Homo sapiens: one gene and its partners. The protein of the gene in region 1 purifies or fractionates together with the protein of each later gene. This does not show direct contact. Each region holds a gene or a part of one and is shown in the gene's direction. Other genes may lie near its edges.

Region 1 (3,500 bases):
CCGGGCACAGTGGCTCATGCCTGTAATCCCAGCACTTGGGGAGGCGGAGGCGGGAGGATTGCCTGAGCTCAGGAGTTCAAGACCAGCCTGGACAACATGGAGAAACCATGTCTCTACTAAAAATATAAAAAATTAGCCGGGCATGGTGGCACATGCCTGTAATCCCAGCTACCTGGGAGGCTGAGGCAGGAGAATCGCTTGAACCCGGGAAGCAAAGGTTGCGATGAGCCAAGATCACGCCATTGCACTCCAGCCTGGGCAACAAGAACAAAACTCTATCTCAAAATAATAATAATAATAATAATAAATAAATAAATAACTGGTACATCCATCCATCGAACAGATTAACCAACTCATATAAACAACAGGGTGCTTCTCAAAAGTGTTATGCAAAGTCAAAGAGGTCAGACACAAAATACACAAAATATGTATCTACTCACTGTATGATTCCATTTGTGTGAAATTCTTGAAAAGGTAATATAGTGTTAGAAAACAGATCCATTGGTTGGCAGGAAGTGAGGAAATAACTCCAGAGGGGCCCAAGGGAACTGTTGGAGACATGGAAATATCCTGTACCACAATTCCGGGGCGGTTACACCACTGAGTATATTTTTTCAAAACTTAGCAAATTGGACACTTAAAGTGGATGACTTTTATGGTATTTAAATTATACCTCAATAAAGCTGATTTAATTTTAAAATGTTACAAGATCATAGAAAAAAAGGAAATGCTTCCCGATTCATTGCAACCCTGATACAATAAATGATTTAAAAAATACAAAAAGAAACAGTGGCCTGTCTTACAAATTGATAATGCAAAAATCCAAAGTAAAACACCAACACATAGCATCCAACCTTGTGTTAAAACATGAACTGGTAGAATTTATTCCGAGAATGAAAAGGTGATTTATATTTAGGACATTTATTAGTGTAATTTATCACATCAATATGTCAGAGCAAAAAAGCCACATCTTGATAGATGCCCAAAAGAAGGTAAAATTATATATCTATTTCCCATAAAATAATTAATCAGCTAGGCATAATGGGTGGTACTTCTTTAATTATGAAGAATGCATATCCCACATCAGTAGTGAGCAATGCACGAAATAATGGAACACTAGAGCTGAACTTCCCAAAAAGACCTCTAAAGGAAAGGAACCCTGGCCGGGCGTGGTGGCTCACGCCCATAATCCCAACACTTTGAGAGGCCAAGGCAAGTGGATCACCAGAGGTCAGGAATTCGAGACCAGCCTGGCTAACATGGTGAAACCCCGTTTCTACTAAAAATACAAAAAATTATCCAGGCATGGTGGCACGCACCTGTAATCCCAGCTACTCGGGAGGCTGAGGCAGGAGAATTGCTTGAACCTGGGAGGTAGAGGTTGCAGTAGCCGAGATTGCGCCATTGCACTCTAGCTTGGGAAACAAGAGTGACACTCCATCTCAAAAAAAAAAAAAAAAAGGGATCCTATGGAATACTTAAAGAAAGAAAAGAGGGGGGTGGGGGAAGGGAGAGAGGGATCAAGAGAGGCAGAGAGAAAAAGGGAGAGGATTTTGGTAGTCAAATTTGAGAAAGTTTGCATTCCACTCTTGAGAATGTCACATTCTATTAACTGTTCGAAGTTTCCAAAAAGTCCAGGAGTGAAAATAAAGCTGCTTAATCATTTTTCCCAAACTTGGACATGAGCCCTTTGTTTTTTTTCCATAATGTATGTAATATGTATGAGAATACTCGGCCAGGCGAGGTGGCTCACGCCTGTAATCCCAGCACTTTGGGAGGCCAGGGCAGGCAAATCACCTGAGGTCAGGAGTTCAACACCAGCCTGGCCAACATGGTGAAACCCCGTCTCTACTACAAACACAAAAACTAACCGGGCGTGGTGGCGCACACCTGTAGTCGCAGGTACTCCAGAGGCTGAGGCAGGAGAATCGCTTGAACCTGGGAGGTGAAGGTTGCAGTGAGCCAACATTGCATAACTGCACTCCAGCCTGGCAACAGAGCAAGACTCCATCTCAAAAAAAAAAAAAAGAAGAGACCATAACCAACTGAACAACCATAGAACAAATTAAAATACAATGAGGGGGCTATTTATAATAGACACAATGGTAGTTTCCTGTATAAAAGCAACAAGCAATTAGACATTGTTTTTTATTCACTTCATAAGAACAATTTTTTTTGGGCGGGGAGGGTGCGGAGTCTTGCTCTGTCGCCCAGGCTGGAGTGCAGTGGCGCGATCTTGGTTCACTGCAAGCTCTGCCTCCCGGGTTCACGCCATTCTCCTGCCTCAGCCTCCTGAGTAGCTGGGGCTACAGGCGCCCGCCACCACGCCCAGCTGATTTTTTGTATTTTTAGTAGAGACGAGATTTCACAGTGTTAGCCAGAATGGTCTTGATCTCCTGACTTCATGATCCACCTGCCTCGGTCTCCCAAAGTACTGGGATTACAGGCATGAGCCATCGCACCCGGCCAGAACAATTTTTTAAAAATGTAAAGTACTTGGGAAGAAACGCACCCAGAAATTTGCGTCAATGATGAAAACATTTGGAATCATGTTAAGTTTGAGTAAATGGAGAAATGTGCAGTAGGCCTGGGGAGAAAGGCTGGAGATTGTAGAGGTGTCAGTTGTCTCCAGATTAATACGATTTCAGTCAAATTACAACTGTGGTCACCTGTAAAACTGATAAAATAATTCTGACCGGGTGCAGTGACTCATGCCTGTTATCCCAGCACTTTGGGAGGCCGAGGCAGGGGCATCACCTGAGGTTAAGAGTTCAAGACCAGCCTGGCCAACATGGTGAAACCCCATCTCTACTAAAAATACAAAAAAAAAAGCTGAATGTGGTGGCGGGTGCCTGTAATCCCAGTTACCCAGGAGGCCGGGGCAGGAGCATTGCTTGAACCCAGGAGGCGGAGGTTGCAGTGAGCCAAGATCACGCCATTGCATTCCAGCCTGGGCGACAAGAGTGCAACTCCATCACAATAATAATAATAATAATAATAATAATAATAATAATTCTAAGGTTTATCTGGGAGAATAAATTAGTATAAGGCATCTTAGAAAAAGAAAAAGAAGAATAGCGTGTGGGACGGTTGCTCTACCCAAGATTAAAATTGACTGTCAAGTTAAAATGGTGGGTATTGGCATCAGAATATGTAGATAAGTGGAAACACAATAGAAAGTCTAGAAATCAAGGCTGGTATTCACAAACTCTCAACTGATGCAGGCCAGCCAAAAGAGAAAGTTAAGAATGTTTCACATTTTCTTTTCTTTTCTTTTGAGACTTAGTTTCATTCTTGTTGCCCAGGCTGGAGTGCAGTGGCACTGTCTTGACTCACTGCAATCTCTGCCTCCCGGGTTCAAGCAATTCTGCCTCAGCTTTCCGAGCAGCTGGGATTATAGGCGCCTGCCACCATGCCCAGCTAAGTTTTATATTTTTTAGTAGAGATGGGATTTCACCATGTTGGCCAGGCTGGTGTCAAACTCCTGACCTCAGGTGATC
Region 2 (3,835 bases), on another chromosome or scaffold:
TGTGTAAGTGGGGGTGGGGGAGAGTAGGGAGAAGGTGGCTGTGCCCAAATGTCAGAGAGAGGCATATTGGCCTCTAGGGTGGCATCCTTAATGAATTTTCCTACAGAACTGATGTCAAATGGGTCACCTCAAAGGTTCATCTCACTCATTCATTCATTCCCCTTCAAGGCAATGGCCCATCTACCCTATATCCCATTTTAGAGACCCTCTGTGTTATCCACACATTCCACTTTTTTACACTCCCCACCTCCAAGGGGTATGCACACTCTGTCCATTTTACTCAAGAAACATGTTTATTCTCTACTGCTTTGGCTTTGGGCCTCCTGACTTTCCACACTCTAGCAACAGCTCCCTCTTTGAACCACTGGAAAAGCCTCCTGACTGGCCCTCCTGCCACATTATGTCCTCCATGTGTTGCAAGAAGCCTCTTCCTTAAGTCAATTTAAAAAAAAAAATCACAAACACCTGCTTCAAATCTTTTCCCTTTCCTTTCCTTCCTTACTTCTTTTTCTTTTTTTTTTTTTTTTTTTTTGGAGGAGGAATTCTTGCTAATTGATAATATTTAATATTTAAACTCCGTAGATTCACATATGACTTCATCAATTGGCTCAACTAATTTTTTTCCAGCTTCATATCCTGGTATTCAAAGTCATGTACAATTTTTTTATTGCACAAAATGTCTCATCTTTCTCTAGAAATAACAGCCCTTGCCATAAATTCCTGCTTTTGTAACATGAAACTGCTTTCCTTTGGAGTGAGACCACTTTGCACCTGGAAGATGCTCATCCTTCAACATCCAGCTTGTCTCCTCCTTAGGAAAATATCCTCTGTTCTGTTGGTGATACTAAAGGCAGTACCCTGAACATGTCTTTGTAAAAGATTTTGCCTTTAGTATTGTGATTACCCATTCACCTGTCTATCCCTTTCCAGAAATGTGAGCTCCTCAAGGGCAGGCTCCAAATCTGACTTTCCTACTATGCACATAGAATGGTACTTGCCATGTAAGAAACAAATCCTTACTGTTTGGGGAAAAAACAAAAGTACAAAGAATACAACTCTAAAATGAACAAAACAAATGATAATATGCTGTTTAGAAAGTGTTGAAAAACTAGGCATGGTGGCTCACACCTGTAATTCCAGCACTTTGGGAGGCCGAAGTGTGGGGGATTGCTTGAGCCCAGGAGTTGGAGGCCAGCCCGGACAACACAGTGAGACCCCAAATCTATTAAAAAAAAATACAACAATTAGCCGGGCATGGTAGACTGTGCCTGTAGTTCCAGCTTTTCAGGAGGCTGAGAGAGGAGGACTGCTTGAGCCTACGAGGTCGAGGCTACAGTGAGCTGTGATTATGCCACTGTACTCCAGCCTGGGTGACAGGATAAGATCCTGTCTCAAAAAAAAATGTGTTGAAATCATTTCTTTCATATCATGTGTTAAATAGGCTTTGAAGGGCTGGCCTTGAAACCTGACAGCTTTGAGCCATCGTGTATCCATGGGAGTAGGCATTCTAGGTTCCAAACAGCACACTTAGAAATGGACTTTGGAACACAACGTGCTACCTCAAGGCTCCACCTGGCCACACAGCAGGCACTGAGGCTGGGAGACAGCCCCCAGACAGATGAGTGTCCGCGCCTCTCTGAGAGGTGAATGAGCCCGGACGGTCCCTACCTACCAAGTCCTGAGGAGCAGCGGCACCAACGACGCAGGCCCGCCCCAGCCCGCCAGTGAGCCGCCCATGCCCTCTGCTAGCCCGGCCCGCCCGGGCCCCCGCCATGCTGATCACCGTGTACTGCGTGCGGAGGGACCTCTCCGAGGTCACCTTCTCTCTCCAGGTCAGCCCCGACTTTGAGCTCCGAAACTTCAAGGTCCTCTGCGAAGCGGAGTCCAGAGTCCCCGTCGAAGAGATCCAGATCATCCACATGGAGCGACTCCTCATCGAGGACCACTGTTCCCTGGGCTCCTACGGCCTCAAAGATGGCGATATCGTGGTTTTACTGCAGAAGGACAATGTGGGACCTCGGGCTCCAGGGCGTGCCCCGAACCAGCCTCGTGTAGACTTCAGTGGCATTGCGGTGCCTGGGACGTCCAGCTCCCGTCCACAGCACCCTGGACAGCAGCAGCAGCGCACACCCGCTGCCCAGCGGTCACAGGGCTTGGCGTCAGGAGAGAAGGTGGCCGGCCTGCAAGGTCTGGGCAGCCCCGCCCTGATCCGCAGCATGCTGCTCTCCAACCCCCACGATCTGTCCCTGCTCAAGGAACGCAACCCTCCCTTGGCGGAAGCCCTGCTCAGCGGAAGCCTTGAGACCTTTTCTCAGGTGCTGATGGAGCAGCAAAGGGAAAAGGCCTTGAGAGAGCAAGAGAGGCTTCGTCTCTACACAGCCGACCCACTGGATCGGGAAGCTCAGGCCAAAATAGAAGAGGAAATCCGGCAGCAAAACATTGAAGAAAACATGAATATAGCGATAGAAGAGGCCCCCGAGAGTTTTGGACAAGTGACGATGCTCTACATTAACTGCAAAGTGAATGGGCATCCTTTGAAGGCTTTTGTTGACTCGGGCGCCCAGATGACCATTATGAGCCAGGCTTGTGCCGAGCGATGTAACATCATGAGGCTGGTGGACCGACGGTGGGCTGGGGTTGCTAAAGGAGTGGGCACACAGAGAATTATTGGCCGTGTTCATCTAGCTCAGATTCAAATTGAAGGTGATTTCTTACAGTGCTCTTTCTCCATACTTGAGGATCAACCCATGGATATGCTTCTAGGCCTAGATATGCTCCGGAGACATCAATGTTCCATCGATTTGAAGAAAAATGTGCTGGTCATCGGCACCACTGGCACGCAGACTTATTTTCTTCCTGAGGGAGAGTTGCCCTTATGCTCTAGGATGGTAAGTGGGCAAGATGAGTCTTCGGACAAGGAAATTACACATTCAGTCATGGATTCAGGACGAAAAGAGCATTAAAGCACGTTATAAATATGTTACCACCTTGAGGGAGCCTCAGGTCCCCGGCAATTATAAGTTAAGAGCTTACTGGCAATGTAATCATTAAAAAACATCAGTAACAACTAAACCTGGCCTTGGGACTACGTTCTCAGATGGGTAACTAACGTCAATCCTGATTCCTTGGTCTTGGTCCCTCTTCCATTTCCCTTGTCCAGAGATCACTGAAAGGCATCCTGGGAAGGCTCTGGAGGCTCCAGCTGATTTCCAGATAATCCATGAAAAAGAAAACCAGCTTCTTCCTTTAGAGACACTATCCTATCAGATTACAGGTGGCTTATCCAAATCATTGCTATTTTGCAGAATTCCCTGGAAAAATGCTATGGCTGCAGACCTTACAAGGCATCCACATAAAACTATTTCACATCAGCACTAATAATTCTTTCTACTGAGAGAAATATGCCCATTTTCACAGGTTTTGTTTTCTTTGGGAAGGGTATTAGAAATGGTAGGTCAGTTACACTATGATGTTAACTAATACTTATACATGTCTGTTTGGGGCAGCATAAAGACCAATTTCCTCATATTTACACCTTCCCTTCCCCTGGATCCCCTGCAGTCACCCTGCAATCCACAGCTAAAGACTATTTTTGCCATATTTGAGAAAGTGGATTTATCTCCAAGGATGCTACATTAATTTTCTATTTCTCCTGCATTCAAAGAAACTCTGGCTATAAAACAAAGGCAATAAATTAGATTTTTTAAAAAAGAAATTATGGTACTTCTTGGGAGTCAAGTTGTACAGTGGTGGGAATGAGAGGTGGGGACAGGCAGTGGTCCAGGTTCTCTAATAGTCATTGCAACTAGATCATCTCTCTCTCTTTTTCAAAGTA
Region 3 (3,273 bases), on another chromosome or scaffold:
AATCCCAGCTACTTGGGAGGCTGAGGCAGGAGAATTGCTTGAACCAGGGAGGCGGAGGTTGCAGTGAGCCGAGATCACACCACTACACCCCAGCCTGGGCGACAAGAGTGAGGATCCGTCTCAAAAAAAAAAAAAAAAAAAAAAGATATTAAAGAGAAAAACCAATATAGGGAACATACTAATCTTTGCCAGGCAGCTAATGTGTACTTCCACAAAATGTCTTACACTTTGTTGACAGTCAAGAAGGTCTCTCTGACTATAAAAGGATGAAAAGCAGCCACCTGGGAAGGAGAGAGGGACAGTGTCTTAAGTAGAGGGAATGGCATATGCCTAGCCACAAGATAGCCAAGGCTTGTGGTACTTGAGTAACCATTGTTACCGAAGTACTAAGGAAGTGGGAGTAAGGACCAGGAATAGTTTTGAGCAGGGGGATGATGTTAGCATTTCTAAAGAACATTCCAGCTGCTTTTTGGAAAGCAGATTTGAGGTAGGAAAGAAAGGAAACACAAATACCAGTAGAAAAAATGGCACAGTAATCCTGGTGAGTGGAGATGGTAGGGGTGGTGACAGCTGAGATGAAAAGAGGATGCATTTAAAATACATTCTGGAAGCATAATCTTGCTATCTTCAGGAATAGAAACTGAACAAATCCCCATCTTGCTGCCACTTACCATCTTAATCAGGGAGAACCCATAAATCAAGACCAGTAGTGTTCAGAACAAGGATCTCCAAGGGGAAGAAAAAAAAGGCCAGTAGTAAGAACTTGGTGAGATCTTAAAAGCTCTTTCACCCCCCCTCCCCACACTCCAACTCCACTCCCTTCTAGTTGTTTTCCTGAGGTAACGGAAAACCTTTTAAAGCAAAAAAGGAACTATGTCCATGTTTCCAGGCCAGCAAGATAGGGAAAGTGAGAAAGACTAATAAAAGAGTAGTAGGCTGGGCATGGTGGCTCACACCTGTAATCCCAGCACTTTGGGAGGCGGAGGCGGGCTGGTCACCTGAGGTCAGGAGTTTAAGACTAGCCTGGCCAACATGGCGAAACCCTATCTCTACTAAAAATACAAAAATTAGCCAGATGTGGGGGCACGTGCCTGTAGTCCTACCCACTGGAGAAGCTGAGGCACGAGAATTGTTTGAACCTGGGAGGCGGATGTTGCATGGAGCTGAGATCATGCCACTGCACTCCAGCCTGGGCGACAGAGCAAGACTGTCTCAAAAAAGAGTAGATGGTGGCAGCTTTGAAGAGAAGAAAGCAGTCTGTCACTGGGTTCTTTACCAAATTAGAAAGAATACCTGGAACTGCAAAGTAAAATTTAGTTTAGAGGCAATAAATGTTTCAATCATTGGCATCTAAACTAGGCAGATTACAGTGTCCTGTTATCTTTGCCTTGTTCCTATTTTTTCTCTTCATTCCCATTTTATTTTCTAAGTTTAAATCTTCATTTCTTCTTGGATTATTAATCAGGTATTTAATGGTTACTTGGCATGTCCTTCAGTGTATGGAGCTTTCTTAATATCAAAAACTTCATTTTCTGATCTACAGCAATACTTTCACGTACATGTTTGTCATTTGTTAAATTTGGGCTATTTCATGTCTATTTCTTGTGTATGTCTTATCAAAAAGTCATGAGTTTTTAGTTGGTATAGGTACTTTTTTGGAAAACTGGCAAGGGGCTGCTAGGTAACAATTTTGTGCTAACTTTTAATTAACTAAACATTTTGACCTTAGCTATGGGAAAAATCTGGTTGGGAGAGAGCAAAGTTTGCTATGCAGATTTCACTTGTACTACTTTTTATTTATTTGTATATGTAACATACTTGTAAACAAATGGACTTATATATAACATGTATATATGTATTTTATATATATTATATATACATACAGGCAAATTGTTTACCTGAGCATTGGGATTTAAAATGGGGATAATATACATTTCACATGATTTTTATGATGAAATATTTTAGAGGAAGTGTTCAAGTTTTTTATTCCAACCCCCACAAAAAAAAAATAGGCTTTTCACATTTACATGGTTTTTGTGGTTGGTAGGTTCTCCAGACTGTCATCACTAATTATAATCTATGTACTCCAAGTTCCTGAACTGCCACTGTCTTGTACCACCATTACCATTTTCATAGACTTCTGTTATATCTCGTTTACATCTCTTTCTTCTCCAGTAATATTTAACTATGTTAACCTTGAAGATAGAAGGTAATTTTTTGTGCCTTTAGCACTAAGTCTGCTGCATACAGTGGGGTTCTCAATGAGTGACAGGCATCATGATTGCAAAGTGTCAGATAAGAAAAGCAATACCTTATACAACGTAGGAAGCTGAGTTCCTAGAAAAGCTATTTTAAGATGAGTGTAAGCCATAGAAGTTAGAGGAGGTACTCTGTGGCTACTTTGGCTAGTTAAGAGTAATGAAAATCTTAAGACTGTATTGTAGATGGCAATGTAAGTGGTAAAAAAGCTAAGTCGTAGTCTGAAAAGTTTGGAGTCAGTATTTTCAATATTCAGCAATCATGTTAGGTATTACTTTTTCCCAAAACTAAAGAATGCATAGGACATAAGTTAAAAGTTCATACATAACCTGGCTTCAAATCCAGTTCTACCACTACCTGAAAACATCAGTTTATTTCTCATCAATGGGTTGTTATAAAGTACCTAGCATAGGGTATTGCTTAAATGTTAATACTCCCAATCCTGACACTAATGTTTCAGGGAAGAGTGAAAGAAATCACATTAACTCCACATTATTGAACATCTTCTGTGTCAGGCTGAATACATCTTTGTATCCATTGTCTTCTGGTTGTTTAAAGACTAGTGTAGAAGCCTGACATGTAAATCGGTGATTATATAAGATAGTACTGTCTTGTAATGTGTTGTGCTAGAGAGGTTAAGTATTAATTATTATGGGAGCTCAGGAGAGGCACCCACTGGCTGCTGGGAGAAGAGCAAAAACCTATATATAAAGCAATTTTTAAGATTTTGGTTCTATAAGGGATAGATGTCGTATCCAGTTAGTGTATTCCCAAAGTCCTATAACACATGTCAAGATCGGGAAAGCTCACACACACAATAATGCCAAAGAAAAGTTCTTTCTTCTCACCCTTTCAGGAATCTACTTGAAAATGGATCGGTTTATGTTGGATTAAATGCTGCTCTTTGTGGCCTCATAGCAAACAGTCTTTTTCGACGCATCTTGAATGTGACAAAGGCTCGCATAGCTGCTGGCTTACCAATGGCAGGGATACCTTTTCTTACAACAGACTTAA

Evidence for each region.
Region 2: the proteins of SFXN1 (region 1) and DDI1 purify together in Homo sapiens (affinity purification with mass spectrometry; 3 studies listed by BioGRID and IntAct, with this or other methods). This does not show direct contact.
Region 3: the proteins of SFXN1 (region 1) and TMEM126A fractionate together in Homo sapiens (co-fractionation; one large-scale study listed by BioGRID). This does not show direct contact.

What each region holds. Positions count from the first base shown.
Region 1 is NC_000005.10:175,502,560-175,506,059, forward strand, and holds part of SFXN1 (sideroflexin-1), read left to right. Parts: intron 1-3,500. UniProt on the Homo sapiens protein: Amino acid transporter importing serine, an essential substrate of the mitochondrial branch of the one-carbon pathway, into mitochondria.
Region 2 is NC_000011.10:104,035,051-104,038,885, forward strand, and holds the start of DDI1 (protein DDI1 homolog 1), read left to right. Parts: upstream 1-1,589; 5' UTR 1,590-1,772; coding exon 1,773-2,963; 3' UTR 2,964-3,835. UniProt on the Homo sapiens protein: Probable aspartic protease. Seems to act as a proteasomal shuttle which links the proteasome and replication fork proteins like RTF2. Required, with DDI2, for cellular survival following replication stress.
Region 3 is NC_000011.10:85,650,948-85,654,220, forward strand, and holds part of TMEM126A (transmembrane protein 126A), read left to right. Parts: intron 1-3,115; coding exon 3,116-3,273. UniProt on the Homo sapiens protein: Protein required for the cotranslational protein quality control in the inner membrane of the mitochondria.